Linked DNA regions of Homo sapiens. The protein of the gene in region 5 purifies or fractionates together with the protein of the main gene of each other region. This does not show direct contact. Each region holds a gene or a part of one and is shown on either strand. Other genes may lie near its edges. The genes, in order: ANXA2, AZGP1, RNLS, JADE1, SERPINB3, LGALS7 and MYB.

What was found.
Region 1: the proteins of SERPINB3 (region 5) and ANXA2 purify together in Homo sapiens (affinity purification with mass spectrometry, with the first as the bait; one large-scale study listed by BioGRID). This does not show direct contact.
Region 2: the proteins of SERPINB3 (region 5) and AZGP1 purify together in Homo sapiens (affinity purification with mass spectrometry, with the first as the bait; one large-scale study listed by BioGRID). This does not show direct contact.
Region 3: the proteins of SERPINB3 (region 5) and RNLS purify together in Homo sapiens (pull-down; one study listed by IntAct). This does not show direct contact.
Region 4: the proteins of SERPINB3 (region 5) and JADE1 purify together in Homo sapiens (affinity purification with mass spectrometry; one large-scale study listed by BioGRID and IntAct). This does not show direct contact.
Region 6: the proteins of SERPINB3 (region 5) and LGALS7 purify together in Homo sapiens (affinity purification with mass spectrometry, with the first as the bait; one large-scale study listed by BioGRID). This does not show direct contact.
Region 7: the proteins of SERPINB3 (region 5) and MYB purify together in Homo sapiens (co-immunoprecipitation; one large-scale study listed by IntAct). This does not show direct contact.

What each region holds. Positions count from the first base shown.
Region 1 is NC_000015.10:60,356,145-60,360,390, forward strand, and holds part of ANXA2 (annexin A2), read right to left. Parts: intron 1,093-4,246; coding exon 1,002-1,092; intron 1-1,001. UniProt on the Homo sapiens protein: Calcium-regulated membrane-binding protein whose affinity for calcium is greatly enhanced by anionic phospholipids. It binds two calcium ions with high affinity. May be involved in heat-stress response.
Region 2 is NC_000007.14:99,966,070-99,970,216, forward strand, and holds the end of AZGP1 (zinc-alpha-2-glycoprotein precursor), read right to left. Parts: intron 2,362-4,147; coding exon 2,086-2,361; intron 1,218-2,085; coding exon 934-1,217; 3' UTR 661-933; downstream 1-660. UniProt on the Homo sapiens protein: Stimulates lipid degradation in adipocytes and causes the extensive fat losses associated with some advanced cancers. May bind polyunsaturated fatty acids.
Region 3 is NC_000010.11:88,576,328-88,580,573, forward strand, and holds part of RNLS (renalase isoform 1 precursor), read right to left. Parts: intron 1-4,246. UniProt on the Homo sapiens protein: Catalyzes the oxidation of the less abundant 1,2-dihydro-beta-NAD(P) and 1,6-dihydro-beta-NAD(P) to form beta-NAD(P)(+). The enzyme hormone is secreted by the kidney, and circulates in blood and modulates cardiac function and systemic blood pressure.
Region 4 is NC_000004.12:128,864,856-128,869,101, reverse strand, and holds part of JADE1 (protein Jade-1), read right to left. Parts: intron 1,247-4,246; coding exon 1,129-1,246; intron 1-1,128.
Region 5 is NC_000018.10:63,654,224-63,659,166, forward strand, and holds the end of SERPINB3 (serpin B3), read right to left. Parts: intron 4,408-4,943; coding exon 4,290-4,407; intron 3,190-4,289; coding exon 3,047-3,189; intron 2,764-3,046; coding exon 2,608-2,763; intron 1,839-2,607; coding exon 1,434-1,838; 3' UTR 974-1,433; downstream 1-973. UniProt on the Homo sapiens protein: May act as a papain-like cysteine protease inhibitor to modulate the host immune response against tumor cells. Also functions as an inhibitor of UV-induced apoptosis via suppression of the activity of c-Jun NH(2)-terminal kinase (JNK1).
Region 6 is NC_000019.10:38,770,550-38,775,444, reverse strand, and holds LGALS7 (galectin-7), read left to right. Parts: upstream 1-1,927; 5' UTR 1,928-1,952; coding exon 1,953-1,958; intron 1,959-2,341; coding exon 2,342-2,430; intron 2,431-3,414; coding exon 3,415-3,616; intron 3,617-4,305; coding exon 4,306-4,419; 3' UTR 4,420-4,477; downstream 4,478-4,895. UniProt on the Homo sapiens protein: Could be involved in cell-cell and/or cell-matrix interactions necessary for normal growth control. Pro-apoptotic protein that functions intracellularly upstream of JNK activation and cytochrome c release.
Region 7 is NC_000006.12:135,215,641-135,219,886, reverse strand, and holds the end of MYB (transcriptional activator Myb), read right to left. Parts: intron 3,007-4,246; exon of another isoform or gene 2,024-3,006; coding exon 1,907-2,023; 3' UTR 715-1,906; downstream 1-714. UniProt on the Homo sapiens protein: Transcriptional activator; DNA-binding protein that specifically recognize the sequence 5'-YAAC[GT]G-3'. Plays an important role in the control of proliferation and differentiation of hematopoietic progenitor cells.

The DNA.
Region 1 (4,246 bases), on a different chromosome or scaffold from region 5:
AGGATTCACTAGAATGATTTTCGCCCTCATGAAATCAGAGCCAGAGTTATTATCCATAACAGGGGGCAGCAGGGCTAGATCAAATCAGGGATCCTCAGGCTCACCGTTGATTGGTGACCTCTCGTGTAGTTTAAATACTGGCTCCCAGCCCTCCTGACTGTGAGTACTTGTTCTGAACATCAAAAAAATTGGAGGTCTACACACGCACACACACACACACAATTGTGCTTTACTGTCCACTGAGAAAATGCACAGCGGCAAAAACTACTAAGAATTAAACAATGCTTTTGAATGAAAGTATATTTCAATATTCAAAATAGCATCTATATTGAAATACAGTAGCTAGAGAAGAACTGTAATGTTCCTGATACAAAAAAAAAGATAAATGTGTGAGGTGATGGATATCTCAATTACCCTGACTTGATAATTACATATTATATATAATACATGTACCAAAATATCACATGTACCCCCAAAATATGTAAAACTATGATAATAACTTTAAAAAGTAAAACAAAAAAGAAATGCAGTAGCGATGTAAGTTGCATTGTTTATTCCCCTCATAGCCTTCTATACTGCTAAGTGTGCACCAGTCCACAGGGGTCTCTTGCTGTAATTCTTCAATTATCCACAGTCCAGAGTTGGCAACCTCTTGAGCAGACACTGAACAGCGCCCAATAAGTGGAATCCATATATAATACTTGCTACTTCTCCTCATCCGATCTTGTTTAAAAACAAGTTTTGTTTTCTCTCCTTTCCCTCCTGTCTACCCTTCTTCTAACACAGAAGTTCTAGTGGAATGTAATAATCAAAATGCAGGCAATGAGGAGGTGAAGGAGAGAAACTTGGACCACAGCCAACCTTGCCTGCATAGTCAAGGTGGCAGGCACTTCTGCACATCACTAATGCAGGCATCTTAGCCCGAACCCTAACCCCAGTGGCCATGATAGAGTCACATAAATTGGGCTGAGAGGATGAATCACAGAAATCAAGCTACTCACTTTCCTTGTAGACTCTGTTAATTTCCTGCAGCTCCTGGTTGGTTCTGGAGCAGATGATCTCAATGAGAGAGTCCTCGTCGGTTCCCAGCCCCTGTGAACCAGGAAGCACGAACATCAGCAGGGAAATGCTTCCCCACCATTAGCCTACTTCTCTGATCTCCATCAAGTAAATTGCAAACATGGATTGGGTCTGTTAGCATCCTGCTTTCTACATTCCTTCTGAAGAATCTATACTCCTACCCCTTAGCACAAAGTAATGGCATTTTCTATTCCTTTAAAAAATGCTTCACCAGAGCACAAGATGGTGGAACTGGCATGTTGGAGTTCAACTGTTAATATGGTTTTTTTTTTTAAGTAGTGAATAGGGGCTGGGCACAGTGGCTCACGCCTGTAATCCCAGCACTTTGGGAGGCCAAGGCAGGCAGATCACGAGGTCAAGAGATCAAGACCATTCTGGCTAACACAGTGAAACCCCATCTCTACTAAAAATACAAAAAATTAGCTGGGCATGGTAGCGGGCGCCTGTAGTCCCAGCTACCCTGGGAGGCTGAGGCAGGAGAATGGCGTGAACCTGGGAGGTGGAGCTTGCAGTGAGCCGAGATCGCGCCACTGCACTCCAGCCTGGACGACAGAGTAAGACCCCATCTCAAAAAAAAAAAAAAGTAGTGAATAGGAAGAGGCAGCAATAGAATATGCCAAAATACTAAAACTGGCAATTGCCTTTTGCTGTGGGTAGATAAAGTAACTTTTTCTTATTATTATTTTTCACTTTCTACAATAACCACTCACTATTTTAACAGATTAGAAATTTCTTTGTTAAACAATTCTCGCTAAAATAAAGGAATACAGAAATTTTATGTTGTCACTTGCAGCCAGCATTGTTAGAGTAAGTCTTTTTACCAGGCAAAGGTATAGTTAAGAAAAAATTTTTAGCTGCACTCTTTGAAATGTAAAATTGGGTTAATGTTAAAAATTTCATTCTTGTCCTTCCATTTTTGCTTGATAATTATGCACTCTTCAGGCACTTTAGGGAAGCAAAAAGAAATAATGAAGTGCCAAATAAACCTAGACACCAACACTTTATTAAGGAATAAGAATTTGATGGGTGATGTATTCAAATTTAATATATACACTTTTGAGCATGTCAGATAGCTTGAAAGGACTCAATGAAACATGTATTTCAAAGCTGGCTTCATGATCAAAGTCAAGATTTAATAATCAGGATTCTTTAATACTTGTCTTTCCGAATATGGAACTATCACTTTGAACTAAGTAGAATTACAACTGTTTAAAATGTAAATCAATTATAAGGTGTTAATACAATAAGAAACTTACCCACATGAAAAGCGTGTCAGCTATTAATTAAACTTATTAGCGTTTATATGCCCCGAAAAAGTAGTTTGTATAATATAAGCTAAGCCTCAGGTTAATGGTTAATTTTGAATTTTATTCTTCATCTAACCTTTGAGCCAATGGCTCTTCTTTCTGAGTTTTTAATCATGATTTGTAGAGGTTCCAGCAAAGCCAAAAATTCTCCCCTTGTTAGCAAAAGGTCCATACAGCATTCTACACAAATGTTATTAAATGACTACCGAGTATCTTTGAATATTTTGAGAGGCAGTTGTTCAATCTCAAGGATGATAGAAATATAGTCTAAAAATAACACACAGTGGGAGAAATGTTATATCCTGACATTGTAGAATTGCAAGACAGGCAGAATAATGTAAGATGTGTTTCCTTCCATCACTGATATACCAGTGGTAATATCTGAGAATTCCAATAGTGTTTTTATGTCTACATTCAAAGGTGACCTTGGCAATTTCCAAAGCCCGGCCCAAACTCTCCACAGACTGTCCACAATTCCTATCACAAGGGCAAATTCTACTGTAACATATGGCAGATACTGCCACCGGTACTGCCAGAAGTCAAAACAGATTTTTTTTTAAGCATAGTTCAGTTAATGTCACTTCAAGCTTTATGGATTTTGGACGGGTATTCAACTGTGATAGCTAATGGAAGAGCTGGCACAGGGTCAAAGCTTCAGCAGTTAAAGCACCTTCCATTGGGCCCAATTACATAGATTACAACAGTGACTGACAGCTCAAAAAGGTCTGTTTCAAGTCCCTAATACCTAGTAATAGATACCAGTAAAGCCACTCGAATCACAACTAAATAGATTCTTGATGAAAATAAGACAAACTGATCTGAAGTGTTGATGGTCAGAAGAAACCTAGGAGAGGCTGACTCATCCCTGCCTCCAAAGGTCCACAGACTCGGTTTTCAGGAGCGCTATTTTTATCAACCAGGATCATGAAATGTTGTCGACATTTTATCATTCTTAATGACGTCTTTTCTGCAGTACAGTCTACTTAGGAAACTCAGACAAGTCCGCTAAAATAAACTGAGCACAGCTTGGGCTAAGCTGAAGAACTAAAGGAAGAAAGAGACTTAACAACAAATCTTACAGCAGCCCTGAGCTATCAAATTCCAGGCTTTGGAGATGCCCAGTGTCCGAAGCACCCTCACTCTTGTGTTCTCTGGGAAAAGGATGACAACTGAACTGTGACATTAGCTCTGGTGACAGGCTTACAGCTCAGACTGTTCATAATTCAGGAACAGTGGCATCAGAGAAAACAGACTCGGAATAAAAAATCAAGACCAATGGTTTCCCTCATCTACAGCGCAGACTTTACCCATGTATATCAGCAGAGGGCAGTGTCGGACTGTTCAAATGCTGCAGACCCACACTAAGAAAAGGGTCCAAATGTGTTGCAGTACAACATACATTAATGTGTGTGCATCTATTGCATTTATATAAAACTTGATGTTGGCCAGGCGCGGTGGCTCACGCCTGTAATCCTAGCACTTTGGGAGGCCAAGGTGGGCAGATCACCTGAGGTCGGGAGTTTGAGACCAGCCTGACCAACATGGAGAAATCCCGTCTCTACTAAAAATACAAAATTAGCTGGGCGTAGTGGCGCATGCCTGTAATCCCAGCTACTCGGGATGCTGAGGCAGGAGAATCTCTTGAACCCGGGAGGCAGAGGTTGCAGTGAACTGAGATCGCGCCATTGCACTCCAGCCTGGGCAACAAGAGCGAAATCCATCTCAAAAAACAAAACAAAACAAAACAAAAAACTTGATATTTTAAGTATGCACAAAGTTCAGGAGGTTTCCAATCTACAGTTTTTACTTAATTTAACCTAAAATTCCAGGTTCAAAAGAACTTTACAAAAGAAAAACAT
Region 2 (4,147 bases), on a different chromosome or scaffold from region 5:
TAAGAACAATATCTCATAGGGGGTGTACACCCCCTGTGGTATTGGGAGTAATGTCAGCTTCTCACCTTTTGGTTATTAAGAACAATGTCACGGGGGGAGGATGTAGACCCCTGCAATATTGGGAGTAATATCCTCTCCACCCCTGGATATTAGGAACAATATCAAAGGGGGGGTGTACAACCCCTGCAATATTTGGGTAATATCATCCTTGTCCCCCCTGAATATTAGGAACAATATCACAGAGAGTTTAAACACCCCTTGTATATTGGGAGAGATATTCTCCCCTCCCCAACTGGGTATTAGGAACAATATCAAGGGGGGGTGTACACCTTCTGTGATATTGGGAGTAATATCATCTTTCTTCACTCTGGACATTATGAACAATATCACAGGGGGGTGTACACTGGCAAGTAATATCATCCTCTCCCTTCATGGGTATTAGGTACAATACCACAAGGCGTCTAGGGACACCTGAACAATCCCCAAGGGAAAGGGGGTTCAGGCCACACTTGGGATTGCCCAGGTCAAGGTGCCCAGGAACCATGGCCTCCAGGGGAAACCAAGAGTTTCAGATGAATTCAGTGCTTGAGGGCAGAACCAATGAGAAAATCTAGTCACATTTCTACAGCGCATCACCGTTAAAAAAAGGATTCTCTGTTATGCTAGGCAAGGAGGGATGATTATTTATTAGCTTCTACAGATTAGACAATGGGGTGGGGGTGGGCTCAAGGTGAGATGATTTTTTGGGTCCAAGTCTACTCAAGACAGGCATCCCAGTCTTCGGTCTCCAAATCCACCTCCTGTCTGTCCCCCCACACTGCTCCTCAGGCCTTGTGGATCCATTGACTGTGATTTCTGTGGTTCAGCTCCCACATCAGGCAGGAAGGGCAGCTACTGGGTCTGAGATCCCACATTGCCTCCAACCCTTGCTTCCTAGCTGGCCTCCCAGGGCACCACGAGGGGCTGGGCCAGGCTGCTGTGCTGCACGTGGCAGGAGTAGGGGGCTGTGTCCTGCGGGGGCACTGCCACCACCACCCAGGACTGGTAAGTGCCATTTCCATTGTGAAGAACATCTCCCCGTAACTCAGGCTCCTGCACCTCGCCGGCCCGAGTCCAGTGCACATCAATTTTCCCTGGGTAGAAGTCGTAGGCCAGGCACTTCAGTTTCTTCTTTTCTCCTGGGGCCTGGTGGCTGGTGACCACCACAGAGGGAGGATCTGTGGAGGGATAGAGTGTGACACTGCAGGCTTGAGGTGGACTTCTCCCGGCCCAGGTCTCTTCCTACCCCCACCCCTGGATGTCAGCGATCAGCAGAGCTCGAAGCTCTGTACCTGCCCACCCCCAGCCCCGGGAGACTTTCCAGAATATCAGGGAAGGCTGACGCTTTCCCTCTTGCCCAATCCCCACCTCACCCATGTATTGACTCTGACGGCAATAAGTTGTGAATGCTCCGTGTGCTTCTCCATGTTTTCCCACATCTCAGTGGGCTTTGGAGTTCTGTCCCCCAGTCTCAGTCCAGCTGCTTGGTTCAGCCCATGCCTCTATCCAGCAACCACTTCCCTGCAGCACTGCACAATCCTGAGTCTCACTACGTCTCCAATCCAAGTCTCAGCTTGCAGCCATCAATTCCGCTCACACTGGCTTGCTCTTGTCCTTCTGGGGCTGACATTTTACACGCCTCCCTTCTCTCCACCACCCAGATGGGAGGCATCATTGTAGAGATAAAAAACGATGGGATTTGGAATCTGAAATCTGGAATTTGAGTCCCAGCTCTGCCTCTTACAGACAGTGTTACCCTCACCTCCCTAACCTCAAGCTCCTTGTCTGTTAATTGGAGATGATTTGGGGACACTCATCAAGAAAGAATGGCCTTCCTGGCCCATTCTGCCTGAAATTTTGATGATGTTCTTTTTGGACCACAAATTATATTATCCCAGGGAAGGAATAAATCCTAAAAGATGAAAGCTGGGGGTCTGAGGGACATCCAGGAACAGATGAGACCGGACTAAGATGTTGCCTGAGCTCCTAGCCTGAGATCGTCTTTTATTCTGGGCTCAGTACTGGGGAGCAGGAAGCAGTGAGTACCTTGCCGGTCCAGGATATTTTTGCTGTATTTCAGGTATTTCCGCAGAGTCGCAGGGCACTCCTCCTCCAGGTAAGCCTTGGCCCGCTGCACGTAGACTGGTTCTGCCTCCCACTTCTGCTTGGTTATCTGGGCTGCTGGGTCGAAGGGGACCCAGGCTGGGATTTCTTTGTTGAATTCAATGTAGTCCTTTCCATCATAGTAATATTTCCAGAATGCTCCGCTGCTTCTGTTATTCTCGATCTCACAACCAAACCTTCCCTGCAATACGTGAGACCCTGAAAACTCCCCCGACCCCACAGAGAGACAGTCAGCCTGGTGAGAAATTTATCAAAATAACTCTTAGTCTTGCACATTGGGCAACCCAAAAGAAATAAAGGTTTTTGCAATTCAAGCATGCAATCCCTTTATCAAGACAAATAGGTTATTACTCCAATATATACAACAGACAGAGAGGGGCTAACTCAGTTTGGTTTGGCATTTCAGGTTTGTCTCAGATGAGATATGTTCCTCCTTAAGAGAGCTACAGCCTGGGCGCTGTGGCTCATGCCTGTAATCCCAGCACTTTGAGAAGCTGAAGCGAGTGGATCGCTTGAGCCCAGGGGTTCCAGACCAGCCAGGGTGATATGGCGAAATCCCACCACTACAAAAAATATAAAAATTAGCGCAGCATGGTGGTGCATGCCTGTAGCCCCAGCTACTCAGGAGGCTGAGGTGGGAGGATCACTTCAGCCTGGGAAGTCAAGGCTGCAATGAGCCAAAATCACACTACTGCATTTCAGCCTGGGTGACAGAGTGAGACCCTATCTCAAAAAAAAAAAAAAAAAAAAAAAAAAAAGCACCAGGCCCAGTGGCTCACACTTGTAATCCCAGCACTTTGAGAGGCTGAGGAGGATGGATCACCTTAGGTCATGAGTTCGAGACCAGCCTGGCCAATATGGTGAAACCCCATCTCTACCAAAAATATAAAATTAGGCTGGACGCAGTGGCTCATGCCTGTAATCCCAGCAGTTAGGGAGGCTGAGGCCAAAGGATCACCTGAGGTCAGGAGTTTGAGACCAGCCTGGCCAACATGGTAAGACCTCATCTCTACTAAAAATACAAAAATTTGCTGGGTGTGCTGGCACATGCCTGTAATCCCAGCTACTCATGAGGCTGAGGCAGGAGAATCGCTTGAACCTGGGGGACAGAAGTTGTAGTGAGCCGAGATGGAGCCATTGTACATCAGCCTGAAAGACAGAGCAAGACTCAGTCTTAAAAAAAAAAAAAAAATTAACCAGGAGTAGTGACACATGCCTGTAGCCTGTAGTCCCAGTTATCGGGAGGCTGAGGCAGGAGAATCCCTTGAACCCAGGAGGCAAAGTTTGCAGTGAGCTGAGATTGCATCACTGCACTCCAGCTTGGGTGACAAGAGCAAAACTCCATCTCAAAAAAAAAAAAGCTACAGAATATGAATATATTTCTATCTCTTCTATAGCATCTCTTCTAAGGACAATTATTTGTTTGAATTTATGCTGAGTCCTGAGGAAGCTGTCACAACTACACCAAAGTGTACTTCCAAATTGGATAGAAATTATTTGTGATTTCATATGAGTAAAGGAAGGCTCTCTTTTTCTCTCAGTTCTAGGAAGAGTTCATATCATCACCTAAGTAACCCTAATCTGATCACTTCTTTCTACCTTTCTGGTGTTTGATATCTTTATCCCAAATCTCTAAAGCCCCAACCTTCTTGCCCATTAGCCACAACTCTCAGAAATGGACCTCATAGGGCAGGGGACACAGCCTCTTTGTTCTGATGATAAAAGCAGGTGTTTACCCAGCACTGGTTGGTGCTGTTGGCATAGACTCTGAAAGCTCTCAAGCTGTCTGGGCTCACGTCCCAGGTCTCTCCCCAGCCCCCCACCCCCACCTGGTGTGTTGCCTGAACTGGAGCCACTCAACTCCCTGTGCCTCTATTTCCTCACCTCTGAAATGGCAATGCCAAGAGCACTGTTTTAGGGGGCTATTCTGAGCATTATATATGCTCATAGATGGGCCTGGCACAAAGTAAGTGCTCAGTAAATG
Region 3 (4,246 bases), on a different chromosome or scaffold from region 5:
GATAGCTATAAAGATATCAGAAGTCTAAGAAGGTTTAAACATTTTACAAAGGCAAATGTGTTTCTGTTATATATTTATTCAATTTTATCCCTGGCCTTCCTCCATTTTAAGGAGAAAATCCAAGTTTATGTTTCTCCTATGATTTCCCACAAATAGGTTTTAGTGAGCAGCAGTCAGAACTGCTCAGGTGGGACCTGAAGTGATGTGAACCATCTCTAACTGACTACACAGCTTGAAGTAAATAGAAGAATGCTTAACCTGGTTTTCATGCCATCCTCTAGCTTCTCTAAAAAGGACATCGTTACGGATGAGTGCCAGGATCACCTGCTGGGAGAAATTTTGAGACAGAACCACCCAGACTCACTTCCCCTCTATCAATTTTAGAAAGAAAATAGGCACAAAAGTAAAAAGAGAGAGAATAATAAAAGTAAATATTACAATACAGAAGCCATCCTAGCTAATGGCATCTGCCACCTAAACCATTTTTTTCTAATAAATTGATCTTGTCAATTTTGACAGGTTACTTTGCAAATGTTGACTTTCTGGATCGCTAGCCAATGTCCTTTTTAGGTAGATGATAAAATAAAAACAAATAAATGCAGCAACAGCCCTCCCTATTGGTAGGACAAGCTAAATAAAAGCTGCTCACTCTGTGTCCTGGAAGCTAAATTCATCTTTTTTGAATAATTTAGTAACATGGGACCTTATTCAAAAGCAAAAGGACCTGGCCCATCATTTTCCATGTCATAGGCAGGAACCATCAGGTGACCAATTTCCCAGGTTGCATAAAGAACTAAGGTGGTATTACTCTTCAATATCCACTTCCCCCTATGTCAGGAATTAACTGATGAAAGAGGGAAACTAGGGGCACAGGGAACTATGAGGTTGTTCTATTGAACCATGTGTCTACTGACACGTAGCACCAGGTGGGATGGGTACAATCTTCATACTATAGGAAAATAATCAATAAGGAAAGAGAAGGCTCTACAAAATAGATGTTAAATTGGAGAGTATGAGCACCTCTCATTGCCCTCCATGAGAGACTTAATAGAAAAAAACAACATGATTAATTGCAAAGGCACTTCAGTTCTGTTACCAACTAGCCAAGCCACCTTAGACAAAGTACCTGAGTCTCATTCTTCGCATTAACAAATAGGGATGATGATTAACTCCCTTGAAAATTTACTGTGAGAATTAGAAACTACATACGTAAAGTACCTCAGGTAGTATTAGATAAATAGTCAGCACTTAATAACTGATAGCTAGAATCACTTTTGCTATTGTCAATTCTCACCCCAGCATAATGACAACTAGTATAAAAAAAGAACAAAAGAAAATCATGTTTCACTCACTCAAGAAGATTGTATTAATGGAGAAGGCAGGCAGTCAGTGAAATTGATGCCAATAAATACAGCTTTCTCTGCAATGAGGTTAATGTGAACACATCGGACAATAAATTAAAATAGAACATAAGGTCAAGAAGAAAGCATCTATTTCCTTTACCTTTTACTATTTGTTCTGGGAAATTGGTCTAGTTAAATATTGGCTTTAAAGGTTTGAACCTATTCTAAAGCATGCCTGATTAGGCATATCCCAGACAAATAATTGCCCTGGGAGTCTGGTCCCAATCTGAATGACCACTGGTTGGTCCATCAGATTGTGGGGTTTTAAACTCAACTAGATTCCAAAATATAGAGTATTTTTGAAAATAGTTGGCAATTTGATTTCTTAAAGTAAGGAATATATGAAGGTCAGCTTCATTCAAGTACAATATTTTTTAAACTAACATTTTTCAAGAGATTACTATGTGACTGGCTTACTACTTGCTTGAATTTGAGTGCATTATATCTTTCATTCCTCACAACACTTTGTAGCAAGAACTTCCATTACAATATTCTGTAGTAAGTACCCTCATTTTTGCATTTCATTACGCTCATTTTTTTCAATGAAAGAACTGAGGTACAGATTTTAAACTTTCCTAATATTACATGAACAGAAAGGGATGGTAGGACATTAACTGGAATCCAGGTCATTCTGATTTCAGGGACTGTCTTAGCTTATAGTGTGGAAAAACCAAAATGTTTTTGTGGACCATTTATAGAATAGAAAGGTTAAAGGGACTTAAAGAATGTTTAAAAGGGATATAATTATAAAATTAAAAATATTATAGATAGGGTCCAACAAATCCTATAGATAATAGATCGGGGTAGAGGAGAATCTCGAAGTATTACAAGAATAACATTAAATAGCATTAAAATAAACAAAGAAAAATTTATATAAACTCAAGTTAAATAGACCATGAACTTGATATAAAATAAATTTTTAACATTTATATCACTCTACCTACTATGTAGGAGGTACTATTAGTTTCTGAGTGAGGTACAAGGAATTAAAAATAATCTCTTCTCTGAAAAGCTTAAAAAGCAAAATTGGAAGTTAAAACGTATGTATTCCCCCAAACACATAACAAAATAAGGAGATAGATGCAATGTATTCAAAGATGTTTCTCTGCCAGGACATCAACTCCATGAAGGCAAGGACATTGGTTCTTGTATCATTAGTACCTAGAACAATGTTTGGCATTATGGTAAGTATTCAATGAATGTTTATTGAACAAAAGGATATGTGTATGTATGTATATATGCATGTGTAGGGGTGAAATTTCAGTAAAAATCAACTGACAAAAGGCATACTAATATGAGAAAAAGCATACAAATTTATTTAATCATAGTTTTGCATGACACTGAAACCTTCAGACTGAAGACCCAAAGATACAGGAGTCCATTTTTATGCTTAGATTCAACAAAGTATGGACAGCTCTGCAGCAATATGATTGGACAAAGGGTTATATCTATGGCTAACAAACTGGTAAAACCCACCAAGGCCTGTCTGTCTAGATTCTTCTTGTCCTCTCTGTGCAGCATTCTTTCTTTATGGTTATAGGTCATGACCCTCTCTGGAACTGTTGTGAGCTACAATCAAACACGGTAGGTCAGATAATTTCTTTATGGCCAGTTTTTACAAAGGAAGGCAGGGGAAAGCTAGAGTGATAGTTTTAGGTTTTATGGCTGGTTTGGGGGGAAAAGGGGTTCTTATTTCTACGACCTGCCTTGGGAAAAGAGATTCTATTTTCTAGGGCTAGCCTCAGGGATGAATGCAAGGCCAGAGATAGGAGGGCAGGAGAAGGTCAGAGAGAGCTACTTCTGAGGGCTCCATTTTGGGATATCATTTTCTAAGCTCCTGCACATGCATGCATGCACGCATATCAGTTAGTAAGTACCTGATGATTTCAATAGGTATACTCATCCAACCTGGGTCAGGGGAAAATCATGGTGGAAATGAGATTTTTTAAAGTGATATGGCCACACTATATGAAGCTGATAGTAACATTCTACAAAACGTCCAATAGTGTCACCATCTGTGATGGTCAATTTTATGTGTCAACTTGACTTGGCCATAGGATGCCTACATATTTGGTCAAACACTATTCTGGGTGTTTCTATGAGCACGTTTTTAGAAGAGATTAACATTTATTATCAGTAGATCAAGTAATGCAGATTGCCCTCCCTAATGTGGGTAGGCCTCATCCAATCAGTTGAAGGCCTACATAGGACAAACGCATTGATCCTCCTTCACATAAAGGAGAATTCTTCCTGCCTGAAAGCCTTTGAACTGGCTCATCAGCTTTTTTCCAGCCTTCAGAGTAGAACTGAAACATTGGCTCTTCCTGAGTCTTGAGCCTGCCAGCCTTTGGACTAGAAGTATACCACCAGCTTTCCTGGGTGTCTACCTTGCTGGATCACCCTGCAGATCTTGGGACTTACCAACCAACATAATCATGTGAGCCAATTCCTTATAATAAATCTCTCTCTTTATCCATACTCACATATACACATGCATGCACACATACATACACACACATACCCTATTGGTTCTGTTTCTCTGGAGTAGTCTAACATACCATCTATATACTGAATCTCGAATGGAGAAATGGTCTAAGCCAGAATGGTATTTATTATGTTCTCATGTTGTTTATTCAATCTTACTGACCTCTCTGATGCCCAGTGTCAAGGATTCTTGGGGTTCTCAATAAGTAATATTTGATGATAAAGATCAAAACAGTAATTATGCTGGAAATGGCTTATAAAAAAATTCTTAGCCTATATCCTTTCTCAGTTATCTCAACTTGGGTACTTAACTGAATTATGATTTATCAAGAAGCTTCATTCTCCTTTAAAAATAATCA
Region 4 (4,246 bases), on a different chromosome or scaffold from region 5:
TTCTTCAGATGACCGAGCTCCCTCTAGTCGCACATAATTGGTTAGATAAACCAGAATTTGGATTTCAACACAACAGGTTATAACAACTTCTTTGTTCTCTGTGCACCATAATAATCTAGATGGAGTGACAAAAAGCCACAAATGCACAAAAACAAGAGTGAATCAACTATGATTGCACAACGCAAGCACCAAGAATGGTGCAGCTAGAACTTTAAAGGGCAGTCCAAGGCAGGAGAGAGGCTGACTATCTTCCAATGAAGTCCAGTCTAAGACCTACCTGTTCCATGGGTCCCTAATTCTGCCTGATCCACACTCAGCAGCTCTGCTTCTCTGAAATCCTTATACTACCTACTTTTGGGGGCTTATGATCACAGAATATAGGGCTCAAATGCACTTAAGGGGTCTTGATTCTAAAACAAACTTTAAGATCAACGGAATCTCAGAGAGGTTAAACAACCTGCCCAACTTGATCTTTGCCCTTGATCTCCCAAGTAACTGATGTGTTGTCCAGAGTAGAGGAAGTATATACCCTAGTTTTCTTTTTCTGTTTGCCTAGCCCAGGGCAATATAAAATAGAAGACACTAAATAAATATTTGGTGCTCAATCTCAGAAATAGTCAACAATCCATCTACACAAAAAAAATCTACTGTGAACATTATCTAAAAATGGACTGTGTCTTAAGTACAGTCTTAACATATATTGACCATATTTACCATGTTACAGATAGAGCCCAAGGCTGAATATAAACCTGTTAGGTATCCCCATGATGTGTTTACCAAGTACTGTGTAATATATAAGTCACTGTTTCATTTTAGTCTCTCAATTCCAAGAGGTAGCTTGCGATATCTCCATTTTGCACATGAAGAAATTAGGGAGACTCAAAAGACTTTCATGTGTTTGCTCAGTAAGCAGAGAACACAGGATTCCACCCATATTTATAGAGGGCAAATTCATAGCTTTTTCCCTTAAACATGATGCCTCAAATTAAAGACTTCCTTTAAATATGAACGTCTATGCTTCTTAAATTCTTCTATAAGAAAATTAAGAAATGATTATTTCTTCCTCAACAGTGTTAAAGCTTACAAACCCCTGCCCTATACTTTGACCTACCAGGGCTTAATGCATACCTGAAACTCTTTCTTGCTCCAAAAGCTTAGTGTAAAGATTGAATATCTGTTCCTGGACTTTGCACACAGACCGTTTAATCTTTTCCCTGCGGGTCACCATGTAAGTGAGGTTCCGAACCTAGAATGTAGAGAATAAAGATTCTAAGTAAGCAATACAGTATAACAGTACTTTGGTGCTTTTTAAATTTCTTTACCTAAGAGAAATTACTCCTACTAGGGCCTTGACAGATACTTGAAATCAATAGGTACTTTAAACATTTTATCCAATCTCTGATCTCCTTTTGGGCAGATAAGAAGGATTCCACATATAGCCCTCAACATAGGCAGAAGCAACATCGAAGAGGGTTAGGGACCCACAGGAGTGGGAGGGACACCTAGAGAACTCCTACAAAAGTCCTGCCTCCTCCATCACACCTAACCCATCCCGGCACAGAGGCCATTGGTGTCCAAGTCAAAACTTGCAACCTCTTGCCAGTCGACTTTGCTAATTATTGCATCAATATCTTCTATTACTTGGATGGCCAATGGCTTTAAAGCAGTTCAGAAGCCACTTCTGCACTTTATCAACTATCTTCTGAGGCTGAACTGGGTAAACATGGGGCCAAGGGTCATCAAAGTGGAGCCCCCTGCACCAGGCCCACTGGAAGACCAAATGGTTACCAAGAATCCTAGTAAATGTCTTTGTCAACTGCACACTGAACTCACTGAAAGGCCTGGAGTTAGCAGGTAGCTTATGTGTTGCTATGAGGTGTGCGAATGCCTAGGAAATTTCCAGCTTTGCCAATGATTTGCTGGTTAGACATCTCCAGTCCAGTTCTCTGCATCATCACTTGAAAAACTGGTATTGCCCTCTCCCGATTCGCTTGTAACTGAAAAGACCCAGTGCTAAGAGTTGGCTCTACTTCCTATCTGATGTGTGACTGCTTTGGATCACATAACCCTAACCTATGCTCAGTAATCAACATTTAGATTTGTTCCCCACCTGTCATCACTCAATACACAAAACTTAAAGAATTAGTCTCTAAACTCCCCTAATCCTTCAGTCCTAAAATCTTCTATTGGTCAACCTGATTAGATTACACGGACCTGCAAACACAGATGTCAGACACAGCACACCAAATACACAATTAAACCCTTCTTCAGGAATATGTGGACAAGACCTCCTAAGTAATCTCAGTGGCAGGAGTGGTAGCATCTTTATCTGACCACATCTTTCCCATTAGCTCCTACAGGCATGCCTTCACTTTCCTAAAAATATCCCATTATGAGCAAACTCTTCCCCTGACACCTTTATAATTTTTTCCCCATAAACTCAATAAAGTAGTATCACCCTACTTTAAGTGGAAAAAGTCCAAAGGTCACCAACCTTTTCTTTTGGCAGTGAGGACAGCAACAAGCATCAACAAGCCTTGTGAAGACACAAAAGATTTTGCACTCTGGTGTAGAGCGTAAGTGTAGACTAAACCCTAATAATTCCAGCTGTGCTGAAGGCAGTCTCATTTGCAAGAGGACATGAAGCATTAAGAGAGACAGAACACAGGCTTTCACATTTGCATTATGGTAATATCTCCTGGCCTAAACAGGAAAATGCCAAGTCAGGCTTCTCCTGCCCCTAACAAATTCACTTTACGGATCTTCCCATCTTTTTTTCTCTAACAATCCCTTATGTCACTAACATTTCCTGTCTTATTTTAAATTTAAAGAATTGAGAATAAAAACACTCTCCCTGTCTCATAGTAAATATTACATGGATGTCAATCAGCCTAGTTAAGGTAGTTTCTTCCCTTCTCTGACAGCTGCACACCCTCAATCCAAGAAGCAGGTGTCCTTTATAGAAATTCTCACCAACTTGGGAATGGAAGTGGCTAACATCCTCCTCTCTTCGATATTGTTCCACCCAGGGGAAATTAAGAGTGAAGCTCAAGAACGAGGGGCCAGACCTAGATCCATAGCAGATTCAAAACTTCTAGGAAACAGAACCATTTTTACATTAACAAGGAATCTGACTCCTGGAAATAAAAAATGGAAACAAATCCTGACATCTTAGGAGCAGACAGGTTGCTCTCATATTCAAATCAGACATGTAATAGAAATACTTACATCTCTCTTACTTGAAATTATCCTTAAAAATGGAAAACGGGGAAGCCAGGGAATTTGAACTTTGTATATTATTCAAATTTAATTTTGGTAGCTTTGACCACACCATGGCTGCTAAATAGAAAAATCCCACTGCTATTCCTCATGATCTCTGATGGGAAATATCTAAATGTAAACCCAAAAAGCAAAGGGCATGGTTTTCAATCGGAACAAATCAGCCCTGACCAACTCCACTTTATAGTAGTGAGGACTCTAAACCTGACTTCCCTTATGCATAAAGTTCCCTATAGGACAACGCTCAGCAACCTCCACCTGCAGAGCTGGACTGATGCTCTCCCATCCTCAAAACACATCCAGCTTGTCCCTTCTTCCTGCACCCGTTCCACCAAGCTCCCTCCCCTGCTTTATCTTCTCCCAACTGCCTGCAAGGAGGTATCTTAAAAAACATTTAAACCATCTCCAGGTGCACTCTCACACCACCTTAAACCTGATCATCCCTTTCCCCTAAAGCAGTGTTCCCAAACAGAAACATGGGGTACCCACAAAACAGAACCACCCTTTGGAGGTGGGGCCCATGAATCTGCATTCCTAAGTTTCTGGGTCAGGGACAACACCCTGAGATACACTGCTCTAAGACATCTAAAAGTGGTTTCAGTGTTTTCTTGAATCCAAAACTGTTTGCAGCACTAAAGTTGAACGTGCCTTTTGTTCAGGGGACACTGTAGCCACTACCAGATTTTCAAAGGTGACCATTCCACTGAGTGACTACAGGACTGCCCCCAGGACTTGGCCACTTTCCATAACGCTAGCCAGAGTGCAGTGGTAGCACGTCTTTATCTGAATAAATACTCATTTGCTGAACTCACATTTACTGCATCTTTTAGGGGAAAGGAATGAGAGTGAAGTGGCAGCCTTGGGAATGACATGGCTACCCACCACATCAGCAACTGTGTCTTCTTAAAGTTGTGTGCTCCCAAGCCCTCCTGAAATCTACTCCTGTCACCTAACTTCCAGATCCAGA
Region 5 (4,943 bases):
AAGTGGTGAAACATTTGTTTCCTCTGCCTTCATCCTGGACTGCTGAATCTTGCTGAAGAAAACTTCAACCTTGTTCAAATTCTCTAAAACTTATGTTTTATGAAACCAGGTGGGATTCAGTACTGACTGGGAAGAATCTATGGGAGTAAATATGGAACCCTAAGAAAAGCTACTTTCTGGAAAATAAAAATGATCAGTTCATGATCTTTACACATATTGATATACTTCAAGGTCAATTCCAGATTCTTCTTTCTTCTAACTTTATCCTTCCTCCCTAGGATCTTATCTTTGCTTCTAGCTACAATTACCATGTTTATCCCAATAACTCTAAAGTATTTATGTTGAATATCACAAATTTAGAGCTTCAGATCATATTCTGTTTCTGAGATTTAGATCAATATCTTCAAGTACCTGCCAGGCAAATTCATTTGAATATTAAAAGTACCTCAATTCATCAAGTACAAATTTAAACCCATGGTCTTTTTTTTCTCTCAAAAACAACATTTTCTTCCATCCTTCCAGTCAGATAGCTCAGAAACTTAGATGTCTTTTTTTAACTATTACTTCCTAAATAATTCTGCCAGGCTGTTTCTTTCTCTTCATTTCCACCCCCAATACTCTAATGATTTCCTGATTTATATATGGTAACCACACTGTTCTTTCCTCTCATCCATTGATATCAGAGTAACCAGAGATGTATTTTCAAGATGAAGATATGATAATTTTATGCCCCTCTTTGACAAACAACCATCAAAGCCTGTAATGAGTTTCTTATCCCTTTAGCATAAAATAGGAAGTTCCTAATGTGGTTTACAAGGCTCCTCCTGTTCTGGGATATGCCTTCTACTCCAGGCTCATCATGAACTACTCTGTTTTTAATTTTCCTTTGTTTGTGATTAATATATCTCTAAATTGTCTTTCCTGTGTGTAACTGGACACTTTCCCTTTCCAGAGAGAAAATGTAAAGCAAAAATGATTTTATGTCACTATTTTATTGATGATGTGTTTTATAGAATCACAAAATTTAGAAACATAAGAAGGATTTAGGTATCACCTAAATTCAAAGAAATGTGTGTTTCTAGGTTGCTAAATTCAAAGAAAAAGTATGATTTGGTTTGGTTCATTTAAAACAGGTCACAAACAGAATTATATTTCAAATTTAGAAGATACGGTATTAAGTGATTCATCTTATTTTGGACATTTTTCCTCAAGGAGAATTTTTCTGGAAGAAAAAGTACATTTATATGTGGGCTTATTAAGAGAAAGAGAGAAAGGCATGCTATTTTAATCATTAAATTCTTGATGATGACGATCATCATCAAGATGAGAAAGAAAAGAAATATGAGCCAAGAGAATCTGTTGTTGCCAGCAATCAGTTTACCAGAACATCTGCAGGTGAACATTTTCCAAATGGAGTGACAGACTAATTGCATCTACGGGGATGAGAATCTGCCATAGAAGAGGATGCTGTTGGTCTTATTTTGCCTTATGAAGAATAGGAAAGGGTGATTACAATGGAACTCTTCATTAGTTGAAGTAGGTGATGATCCGAATCCTACTACAGCGGTGGCAGCTGCAGCTTCTGCTCCCTCCTCTGTAACCTCCACAAAGGCCTTGTGTAGGACTCCAGATAGCACGAGACCGCGGCTCCCGGTCATGCCTGAGAGGTCTGCATCCCCATTGAAGATATCCACCATTCCCATGGTTCTCAACGTGTCCTTGAGGTCATAGCTCTCTTCCACTTTGAACCGAGGTAAGTGTAAATCGACACGTGTCTCTCTCATATTCTGCAAACTTGTCCATTCCATCAATTTCTCAGCAGTGAGTTTCTCTTCAAGCTATACAAATGGAAAAAAGAAACTGATATGACTAACTGTTGATTTCTAATACACCTTAACAATGAATTGACTATGTGGAGAATCCTTATTTTGGCAACAAATGTGAAATACAGAAGGTTCACTTTATTAGATATTATTATTCTAATAGGCAAAATATGAGTCCTGGATATATAAATACATTGGGTTATATGTGTATGTGTATAAACAGAATCAAGTTTTTATGTATATGTAATGTGTACATATGTATGTATACAACTGTATGATACACATGTAAAAATATGATTACATTATTTTGTACACAATGAACTATATATATCACTATTTCTTGTGCCAACAGCCTACTACATGTGTCAATTTTTAATAGGCTCATCTTATTTTTCTGTATACATTATTTAGTACACATTGCAATTATTAAATTGCAATTCCCCAAATTCCTAAATTTCTATTCCCTTTTTTACTTGGTGTATTCGTAAACTTTCCTCACATTGCTATATATTTCTCCCAGTCAAGTTTAAATTGCTGCATAATAATATCATTAAATTGATATCCAATGCATGTAACTCTAATAAATTAATCATTAACTATGCCTTCAGTTTGTGTCAGGCCCTATGCTTAAATCTTTGTAATATGAAGGTGAGTCATCATTCCTCATTTAGAATTTTTCATTATTTTGAGGCAACTCGGTCACCAGCTTTTACCTTGTTTAAACTTGGTATCTTTGGAAAAATGTCAGGCAGTAGAAGGAAGAGTTGTAGATGCAAGTTCTTACCTTCTGGAGACCATCGATTTCATTTGGCAGCAACACAATCATGCTTAGATCTTTGCCTTTGTATGGTATTTCCAGGACCTTGGCCTGTACATCCTCCAGCGAGGCAAAATGAAAAGATGTGTATTGCCTCATCATCTGTATGGACTTGTATGTATTCTACAATAAATCAATGTGTCCAACAAATACCAAGTGAGACACAAGGCAAAAAGATAATATTATTGAGATATCAACACATCCTTCTTTTAAGAAATAATCCAAGAATGTAATGAGTTAGAGACAATAGCTTCTTCAGGAATTCCTAACTAAATAAAGTTATAAGACTAAAACAACAAAAAAACAGACATGAACAATTTTATTTTTTACTTGTCATGGTACATTCCATCAGAAATGTTTAAATTTATTAACATATTACATTATATAAATAAAATATAGACAATACCTTGTTTGGCCAAAATTTTTCCTCTTTAGTATCTTCTTTATTAAATTTCTTCTCCCACTGCCCTTTGAAATAGATTGCGTTCACAAGAACCAATGTGGTATTGCTGCCAATATTACCTTCAGGAATTAGGTTTTTAATTTTTTCTGCAAGGGAAAGAATAAAAGAGTCTTTTACACAAGCTACAAATGGCTTGTCTGGAAGATGCTTTGCAAATGTTCGTGACTGATCGTTAATTATTGACCCAAATCCCTACTTGAGACTCACTGACTTTGATCTTTGAATTGTTAGACTCACTGACCAGTGGTTCACCAGATGCAGCTTTCTTCAAGGCTCCAGTCGTATAAAGTTGCCCTTAATGGAGACATCACTTCTTGTGATAGAGAAGGAGTTCACGTTCTCTGTGTATGAATGAGTCCATTCATCTGATTTGGAATACTGATAAACTGATTTTGTCTACTCTTTCAACATGTGTCTTTCCTTTCTCCCTCCCTCCTCTTCCTACTTTTTTTTTTTTTTTTTTAACTACGGGGTCCCCATTCAGAGGAAGTAGGCCCTGACTGCTTTTTAGGACAAGTGACATGAGCTCTGTAATATGAAACGCATGTCCTGTGCTGTCAGACACTACTTCCGGGGGTATCTTCCTATTCACTCTCATGTTGAGTTGCTGTAAGTTTGGCCTGTAATGAGAGGTGGGAGGTAGGATAGATGTCTATAGAATGGAGAATTTGTTAAGCTCTTGCCCTTGATGGGGAAGAGAGCTGTGATAATCCCTGCAGAACTTGTGGCTAGAGATGTGATCCAGGCAGCTCTAGTTCAGATGGCAAAAGGGTGATTTACCAGAGAGCTGCTTGTTTCCCAATTAGTAAAGGGGAAGGGAGATGCTTTCTAATGTTTCCTTTTAAATATTCATCATAAAATATTGGTTCTGATTTAAAGTAAAGGACATGATCTCAAATTGGACCTGAGTGGAGACAAGGGATCCACAAAGCTATTGTCATCCAGGAACATGAGCAAAGAATCCTCCGGCTATGTTTTCTTCTAATTGGCTTCCTGTGATTTCCTCCTTGGCTCCCCTAGGCTCTCTTCATAATCATTTGGAAAAACTCTTCATCTGGAGTGCCCTCTTCTTCCCTCCCTGCAAAGCCATCTCAATTCCCACCCATGGTCCCCCATGCAGTTTCAGGCATAGGGCTCACTCGCATAGATTTCTCAAAGGTGTTTCTATAATGGGTGGCTCTCCTACCATTCGTTTGACTTTCCACCCAGGAGTTAATCTTCTTTCGACTTTCTTCTGGAGCATTTGCAAAATCAACAGATTCCACACTGGTCTGGTAAAATTTCTTGATGGCATCTAAATATTCCTTTGAGATATGAAGGAAGAAAGTAGGAAGTAAGAGTAATTTATGTAACTATATATTACCAAATTTAGTTATTTATAATTATAGTAAGCTGAATCCAGACCCTGAATAGATGCAGTATCTCCTGTCCATGCATATTTTTATACTGGTGCCATGTAGGCAATGCAAAAGCGGAGTGCGGGCTGGCGCAAGAAAGAGGTCACCGAAGGTCAATATCATCTGGCAAAAGGCAGAAGCAGAAGAGGCTGTGGTTTGCAAACTGCAGAGCAGGCTTCCCTGAAGGAGATTCATTGCTTCTCAGACCTCTTTCCAGTAATTTCAACCATGATGTTTCTGATCTTTGTTTTTATCTTTCATCCTGTGCATTCAGTATTTCCTGGTACTTCCTCAACTATTCTCAGGAACTCACCCAAGCCTGCCCATTCCAATAATATCCCATTAGTCATACATTTCCCACCAAGATGTATCGTATGTGACTGAGTCAGTGCCAGTTTATCGATGGTATCTTATTACTTATTACTCTTACTCACTCTATTACC
Region 6 (4,895 bases), on a different chromosome or scaffold from region 5:
GTGATCATAGCTCCCTGCAGCCTCTGATCTCCTGGGCTCAAGCAATTCTCCTGCCTCAGCCTCCCAAGTAGCTGGAATTACAGGCAGATGTGCGCCAACCCACTGGGCTATTTTATTTTATTTTTATTTTTTGTAGTGATGAGGTCTTGCTGTGTTGCCCAGGCGAGAGTGTCTTCTTTAGAATGGTCAATAATGTTAGAACAATGGAGTCCACCATTCAGGGGAACATTCTCGGGAACTAACTGAGCTGGGCTGGTGGTATGATCACCGGACACCCTGCTATCCTCTCTGTCCGTGCCCATGACATGTCCTTGGCACAAAGACCCCTCTGGAGCTGAGGGGCTGGCCTCTTCCTTGACTGAGAGGTGGCCCCTGTCTAAGCCTCAGTTTTGTCCTCTGCAGAATGGGGGTGCTTGCAGCCCCTACTGAAATGCAGCTGCTAGCCTCCCTCTCTGAGCTCATGTTCCCAAGAACTGGTCCCTGAGCTTGGTGCCTTGGAGTGTGTGGGGAGGGGGCGAGAGGCTGGGGGCCTGGGACGCAGAGGGTGGAGGATGGTTCTGGGTCTGCTGTCTCCACCCAAACTTTCCACTGCCAGCCTGCCTCTGCCCAGGCCTCTCAGCAGCCTGCTGGGTGGGGCAGGAGCTGGAGTGGCGAGTGGAAAAGGTCCAGGAGGGCTGCTGGGCTGCTAGGAGTGGTTTCTGCTCAGCTCCCACACCATCCCTGCCTTTCAGAAGCATCTTTCAGCCCTACCCGCCCCTCCACCAAGCCAATTCCCCAACCCTGAGTTCTCTTGCAGAGTCTTAGGCCCAAGGGGGCTGTTTCGGGCCTGGCGGGAGGGTCCCCGCCTTGCTCTGCTTTTGATCTAGGTGGTGATGGAATGCTAGGCCACCCACCACCCCAAAACCCACCTCATCCTGACCTACAAACTTGGTGGCATGATGGTAGCAGTCCTGGAAGGAGGAAGAAGAGAGACTTGAAGGAGAGAAGTGGGACAGGAATATGTGGTAGACAGAGTTAGGGGCAGAGACGGACAGAGTGAGACAGCCAGCCCCAGAGACAGAACCCACAGGAGAGGTGCGAGCAGAGGTGAGGAGAGCCAGAGGTCAGGGCAACGGGTCCTGCACGCTCCTGCCTTTGGCAAATCGCTTCCCATCCCAGCTTCAGCCTCCTCCTCTGTACAATGGGGGTGACCCATACTCCTCCCTGTTGGAATGATGGGGTCCCAATCAGTGATTTCCTGCATCTCCTGGGCAGCCGAGGGGCCTTGGAAATGACAGGCATAGTCCTAGTGGATCCCCTCCTTTCACCCCTCCTGACTGAGGACTTCCATGAACTGGGCACACTCCAGGACCCAGGGGTGCAGCGCTGAGGGGATCAGGCAGGCCCCCTGTGAACCCATGAAGCCACCCTGTCAGTCACTAGTGCTCCTATTGTGGCCGCTGTTCCATTACAGAGGCAGAAGCTTAGATTTCAGCACGGATCAGTCCAGGCAGGAGGTTCTCAGCTGGAGAGAAGGGTCTGGAGTTCCCACCCAGATTGGCCTCCCAGGACCTAATATGTCTGTGTATAAAATAAGAGAAATTACTAACAAATAAATACATGAAATGAGATAGAGGCTCTCCGTGTGCCAGGCAGCGGGAAGACAGGGGTGGAGGGGCAGTGGCACAAGGAGCCTTCTCTGCTGTGAGTTTATTACTATTAAACATTCCCTCTTATTATCAGCTCCTAGGAGAGGGGCAGTGCACCCGGGCCCTGGGTGATGGGGGGATCAGGGCCCCCAAGAAGAGGTGCCACTCCCGCTTCGCCGGGCTTGCCCCAGGGCCAGGGTCCGTGCCAGGTGTGGGTGGTGGGTGGGAAGGGGTGGGGTGAGTCATCAGGGCCAGCCCCGCCCTGCTTTTATTTAAGGTCCCCAGCAGGCCCCACCACCACGGCTGCCCAACCCGGTCCCAGCCATGTCCGTGAGTGCTCCAGGGGCCCGGGGCGGGGCCAAGCAGGGAGGGGGCTGGGGGCTCCTCTTTCAAAGGAGCAAGTGGGCAGTGAGTGTGCCACGGACTGGCCTGGGCTGTGGCCTCCGGGTAACCCCCATCCCGACTGTCCCCTCTACCTCTTTGTGGCTTCCTCTGGGGCCCTCTTTGAGGATCTTTCTGTTTGTCTTTGTTGCTCTCCCCATCTGTTTCCCTGTCTGTTTCTGGTCTCTTTCCTGCCTCTCCGCCACCCTTTCCTCTTCCACTGATTTCTGCCAGTCTCAGCCCTGGTCGGCTCCTCTGAGGGGTGACCCACCTTCTGCCTCCCTCCTTCGGTCTCACCGGCTCACAGTGGCCCCTGCACCCCACTCTTGCAGAACGTCCCCCACAAGTCCTCACTGCCCGAGGGCATCCGCCCTGGCACGGTGCTGAGAATTCGCGGCTTGGTTCCTCCCAATGCCAGCAGGTGAGGCCCCAGGCCCTAGGGGTAAAGGGTACAGGTCTCAGGATCAGCTGACTCCCAATTTTTGCAGTCCAGAAGTAGGGGCCCGAGGCCACCTGTATCCACCAGGCTAGGAGTCCGAGGCCATTTCTGACCTCAAATCTGATGTATTCGTATTTGCCCCCGTGCCTTTGTGGCTGGGGTCCCTAAGTTTCCCTAAGCATTTGAGGTCCCTGGGTAATCTCAGGGTTCCTAGATATAGTCCTATGACTTCCATGTCTGAGTCCCAGGGAACTCTGGAAATACTCCAAGTCCTGGAGACACCCTGGACCCTGGGAGTCCTTGCCAAGCCATCCTTTGACTTCCTGGCTAAGGAACTTCGGGCCTTCTGGATTCTGAGGTACCCTGGAAATACTGGGGTTCCTGGTATTATTCTTTGTCCTGTAGAAGCTGAGGGTTCCCTGAGCATCAGGAGCACCCTGGCTATCACCCAGACCTCCTGGGCAGCTCCCAGGCTCTTTGGAAATGAGGGCACCCTGCCCTAAGCGTAGTGAGTTTGGTCTGGGTAGGTTTCTGCCAAGGGCCTCATGATATTTTGGCTGCCTTGGGAATCTAAGCTCCCTGGTCATTAGTCGCCTACCTCTCCTTCTGCGGTGTGTGCCTGTCTTCAGGTCCCTGTTAATTTGGGGGTACTCTGGGAATGGGGAGTGCCAGTCCATAAGACCTTCACTTTGGTCTGGGCGGTTTATGTTTTGTTTGTTCTTTCGTTTTTTTGTAAGGTGGGGTCTCGCTATGTTGCCCAGGCTGGTCTTTAACTTCCGGGCCCAAGCGATCCTCCCTTCTCCACCTCCCAGAGTGCTGGGATTACAGGGTGAGCCACTGCACCCAGCCAACATTTCATTTACTTATTCATTCAAAGTAAATTGTAGACATCGGTATTCCTCACCCTCAACATTTCTTGGTCTGGGTGGTTTCTGAGCCCTGACGGCCACCATCCTCCTCTTCCAGGTTCCATGTAAACCTGCTGTGCGGGGAGGAGCAGGGCTCCGATGCCGCGCTGCATTTCAACCCCCGGCTGGACACGTCGGAGGTGGTCTTCAACAGCAAGGAGCAAGGCTCCTGGGGCCGCGAGGAGCGCGGGCCGGGCGTTCCTTTCCAGCGCGGGCAGCCCTTCGAGGTGCTCATCATCGCGTCAGACGACGGCTTCAAGGTGCGTCTCTGCGACAGGGGCGTGGACGCCAAGACTTAGGTCCCTGGAGCAGAGGGTTGGGCAAAGCCAGGCTATTGGTGGAAGGCAGGGAGGTTCGGGGCGGGGTGAGGGGGGTAGGGAAGTCGTGGCCAAGGCGGAGAAGGGTGTCCTTCGACCCTCTCTCTCGCCTAAACAACTCCCACTTGGGTCCGAGGGACAGAGAGACAGCAGGGTCAGGACGAGGCGAGCACCAGCCAAGTGTCCAAGGGGTGGGCGTCCTAGCGGGAAGGCGTGGCCCAGACTCGCCATCCCAGACCCTACTCCCAGTTCATTCCTTCCTGAGGTCCGGGGTTTGAGGCATGGGGAGGGATGGGTTGGAAACAGCGCCCAGGAACTCGTCCTAGCAAGGATTGGCGGGTGGGAGTGGCGGCAGATCCTCCACCACCCACAGCTTACGCGAATTCACCTCCCTCCTCTGCGCTTTAATAGCGGGTAATGGTCGCTGAAATGAGAATATCCATTACCAGCACTAAAAAAGCCTCTTTTTACTGTGCCACACAGTCAACTCGTTTGATCCTCACGCAAGAGTTAGAATGAACAATAGCCCCATTTTCCCAGTGAGGAAACTGAGGCCCAGAGGGGATGAGTGATTTCCCCAGGGCCACCCAGCACGGGCCTCCGGAATCCTCACCACCGACCCTCCCCTGCAGGCCGTGGTTGGGGACGCCCAGTACCACCACTTCCGCCACCGCCTGCCGCTGGCGCGCGTGCGCCTGGTGGAGGTGGGCGGGGACGTGCAGCTGGACTCCGTGAGGATCTTCTGAGCAGAAGCCCAGGCGGGCCCGGGGCCTTGGCTGGCAAATAAAGCGTTAGCCCGCAGCGCGACTGTGTCTGTGTCCCATTCACTGAGATGAGCAAACTGAGACCCAGAGAGGCCAAGATACTGGCTCCGGGCCACACAGCGAATCCGAGGCGGAGGCGGGCTCTGAGCCTGCCTGTGCTTAGGACACTTTCTGTCTGCGAAGGCGTGAGGGTCGCGATCTGGGAAGGAGTGGGTGTGGGGCGTGCCCTGACGCAGCATTTGTGCAAAGCAAGCCAGCTGGGAATGCGGTCGGGCGGACCTGCTGGCGTTTGGGGCGCAGAGGCGCTCACCGCAGGTCCTGGTGCCCCCACTGCAGATCTAAGGGGCGCCAACATGGGTCCATCTGCAAAGGGGGCGAATGAGTCCCACCTTTCTGGTCATTTGTGGGCCCCAATCCTACGGGTGGAAAGCGTGTTATAAGATCCCGGGTCCCTGGGT
Region 7 (4,246 bases), on a different chromosome or scaffold from region 5:
CAGAGTGAGTAAAGGAAATTTAAAGGAATTTATGTTAAAAGGGATATTACAGCATAGTGAAGAGAACACTAAGCTGAAGATGGAGCCAGTAGAGATTCATCTGTGAAATGGGGCTATTTTGAACAAACGACTCCGCATACCCTTGAAGGCTCACAGGCCGGCTCCCATATGGGAGCTCCCTTGTCCTCCAGCTTCTGGTTGGTTCTGCCAGTGAGGACCCCTAGGCAGAGATAGGAGAAATGGGGAAACAAAGTTAGGGTTTACCCTTGGCTCCCTCCCTGTGAGGTCTCCTTCGATGGCAGTGGTCTCATCAAAGGCTAGTGCTCCTCTCAAGGGCTCCTGCTTTCCTGACTGTCCCCCTCCAGGCGGCCTTCCAGGTGCCTTCAGGCCTGCACCCTGTTGCTCTCCTAGCCCCTGCCCACATCTGTGGTATCAGTACATTTGTGAACGAATTCCCCTTACAGCATCCGCACTCAAATGCCGCTAGACCCTGACTGATGCATTCTGGAAGATTCCTCCCCATTGTCCATGTGATTGTTTGTGAACTATTTAACTCAGTTTGCTTGTTCTTTCTTTTCCATTGTAATGATTCCTGGCTTCTTCACACGAAGTGCATATGGTGTGCAATTATTAGAGGAAAGTGCCTTGAGTCTGCTCCATTTTCTTTAAAGTGTAACTGTTGTCCATAGTGACAAATAAGAGAGAAAACAAAAGTAGGTAAAATAAGGGCACATCTTTATTTTGCTACAAGGCAGTAAGTACACCGTCATATCTCAAAAGTTCAGTGCTGGCCATCTTGCATCAAATGTTCTTAAGGCAGTGACTGGCTATCAACCACAGTTTCTGTCTCCCCAGTTGCAAACACAGGATCCATGCAACAGTTCTGAGACCATACACTTAGAAACCACAGGGGATGCGGATCAAATGCAGAACTCCCAAATTATAAAACAGTCAGGCTACACTCAAAACAAAACATAGAACATCAACAACACACATCTCCCAAAAAAGAAGTGCAACGCATGCTTGTATAAACCAACAATAACAAAAAAACCACAATAAAAAATGCAGAGTCTCCCAAACAAGTTTTCAAATGTATTGCAGAAGGAAAAAAAATGTATATATATATAAAATTAAAAAGTCTGAAATACTAGTGCATAGTCAATTACCTAACACCAAGTTTCTTTTCTTTCTGTCCAAGCTCTACTGCCCCTCTGATACTAGCAGCATGTCTACAGGCTAAGACCATAGCAGCAAAAAACGTTTTTCATTTGGCATTTACAAAATTAAATTACTGAATAAAAATATAATTTTTTATAAAACTATTTCTTACAGTAATAATTTTTAAAGCAAGCTAACAGAAAACTCATAAAATGGTTTGGTACAATAAATGTACCTTCAATGTCATTAACCATAAATGAGCATTTACAATCTGGATTAAATGTCACATGGTATTAAGTCTACACTTAGAGTAATGCTTTTACTGATTTTTAAAAATATATGCATATGTTTAGTGATCGAGAAAAGTGAAATACTGGAGTACCTTTTAATGTGTCAAATTTCAAAAAACCCATCACAGGAAAAAATACTGATCTGTTGGATCCTTTAAAATACAGATAAATCATTTTATGTTTTTTTTAAAAAAATCTGCATTAAGATATTAACAACTGGCTACAATTCATTACCTAATAATTTAGGTAAGACTGTTATTTATTTTTAAAAATCCTTTTAGTTGGGTGAAATCCAAGAAGACTTCATTCAACTAAATGCACTTGGTGCTGCTCTCAACTGTTGTACCACAACAAAAATAGGTTCTTCTCCCATTCATGAAAAGTTTCATGTTGAGGAATGATATATCCCAAGTCAACTTGAAGTGTTCTGAAAACCATAATGCTTTTCTGGAAATGTCTCACATGACCAGCGTCCGGGCTGAGAATGCATTCACGTATTTACGAGCTTGACTGGAAGATGTCATCTGCTCCTCCATCTTTCCACAGGATGCAGGTTCCCAGGTACTGCTACAAGGCTGATGGAGAAAGGGATGGCAACAGGAGCGTCAGACAAAGAAGCTCATTCTATAGACCCAGCAGGGCCAGCACTGACCAACAGATGGCAAGTGGTTGACACCAGGAAGGCTTTGTCAGATAGAATCTTACCTCCCTGGCCCCCAGAAATCCGGTGTTCTTAAGGGATATGGATGATCAGAAATTATTTGTTAAGAGGGAAAACCCATTCCAAGCAGCTTCATAAGATATAATCCCATCTTCATATTTTAATGCCTTCCGTCTATTAGGCAATTTTACAAAGCTGGAGACAGGAATGAGCATTATTCTCCAGATACCTAAAGTGAGCTATGGCCATCTACTCACTAAGCAAACTGCTGAGTGCTGTAGCCACAGTGCAAAGCAGCTCATGCACGCACTGGAATTGATCAACACCTGCTAAGTGTCATATATATGTTTTCATCAATTACTTTAGAAATATTTATCAGTATAGTTTAATTTTTTTCCTTTTTTTTTTGAGACAGAGTCATGCTCTGTCATACCAGGCTGATCGGTATTGGTGCAATCACAGCTCACTGTAGCCTCAGCCTCCTGGGCTCAAGTGATCCTCCTACCTCAGCTACCCAAGCAGCTGGGACTACAGGCACGTGCCACCAAGCCCCACTAATTTTTGTATTTTCTGTAGAGACAGGGTTTCACCATGTTGCCCAGGTTGGTCTTGAACTCCTGGACTCAAGTGATCTGCCGGTCTTGGCCTCCCAAAGTGCTGAGATTACAGGCATGAAGCCAGTATAGTTTAATTTTTAAAGATACACTAGAAGATACAAGATGGACCTAATATCTAAGGACAGCATCTCCATGCCAGGGACAGTGGCACTTCACATTTCACATGCATTATTTCATTAAAACAGCACCATCACCTCGGGAGGCAGGTTCATTCTCTCTCTAGACAGGCTCGAGAATGGAGACAGAAAATGGAGGTAACTTGCCCAAGGCCACTCTGTAGGTAAGTGGTGGACTGGCTTTGAACTTTGCTGTCTCCAGCTCCTGCGATGCCTCTGTGTTGCCTCAAATGCAAACATGTACTATTTATGCCCCACTTGGTTTCCAAAAGGACGTAAGATGATTAGAAAAGAAATACAAGACAACAGAGTTTAAAAATGTGTATAAAGAAGAGTCATAACAGGGAAACAAATTTGGAAAAAATAAACACAGTTGGCCCTCTGCATCTGTGGGTCCCATATCTGTGGGTTCCACATCCATAGATTCAATCAATGGCAGATCAAAAATATTCAGAAAAAAATAATTGCTGTGTATTGAACATGTATAGGTGTTTTCCTTGTCATTATCCCCTAACAATATAACAACTATTTCCATAGCATTTACATTGTATTAGCTATTATAAGTAATCTAGAGATGACTTAAAGTATACAGGAATGAACGGGTACAATGTACATTATTCCAACGATAAATACACTCACAGCCTCGACTTTGACCACTATGCAATACATCCATGTAACAAAATTACACTTGTACCCCACGAATGTATACAAATAATAAAAAAAATTATATGGTAAGATGTGTGTAGATTATATGCAAACACAATGCTATTTTATATCAGGGACTTGAGCATCCCTGGACTTTGGTGTCCTTGCGGGTTCTGAAACAAATCCCCCATGGACACTAAGGAACAACTGTAACATGAAGATGGTATGAGATTTGCACACGAAACACCAGCATAAAGCACAGTGCCCCAGCTAGATGTAACCTCCTGCTTGACTCTGATCTCTCTAGCAGTCAATGCAGAGAGGGGAACAGAAACAAACAGATATAAGATTTGGTGGCTGTAAGCTCAAAAGGAAACCAGTGGGTTAGAAAAGGCACTATTCCTGGTATTGCTATCTGGAGGGATTATTTTCCATGGGACAAAAGAATAAGAAAGGCCTTAGCTGTTCAGAGCCTACAGTGTCCTTTATGAGACAGAATGGACACAGGTGAAACAGGAGGAATAATAACAGGCCGTGTGCGCAGGTTTGTGGTGTTGTCCATGGGAAGAGGGGATGGGACACTGAGGAACTGTCAAGGCAATGCTGTGGGGAAAGGGTGAAAACAGCTAAGATTAGGGGAGAGAGAGGTGGAAACGCAGGGATGTCATCCAGGGAGCGAGATAGCAGGAAAGAGGCAGGAAGCTGCAATTTGTACATTGCCAGTGGGAGGGGATGTGGAGTGGGGGAGGGCTGAGAAAG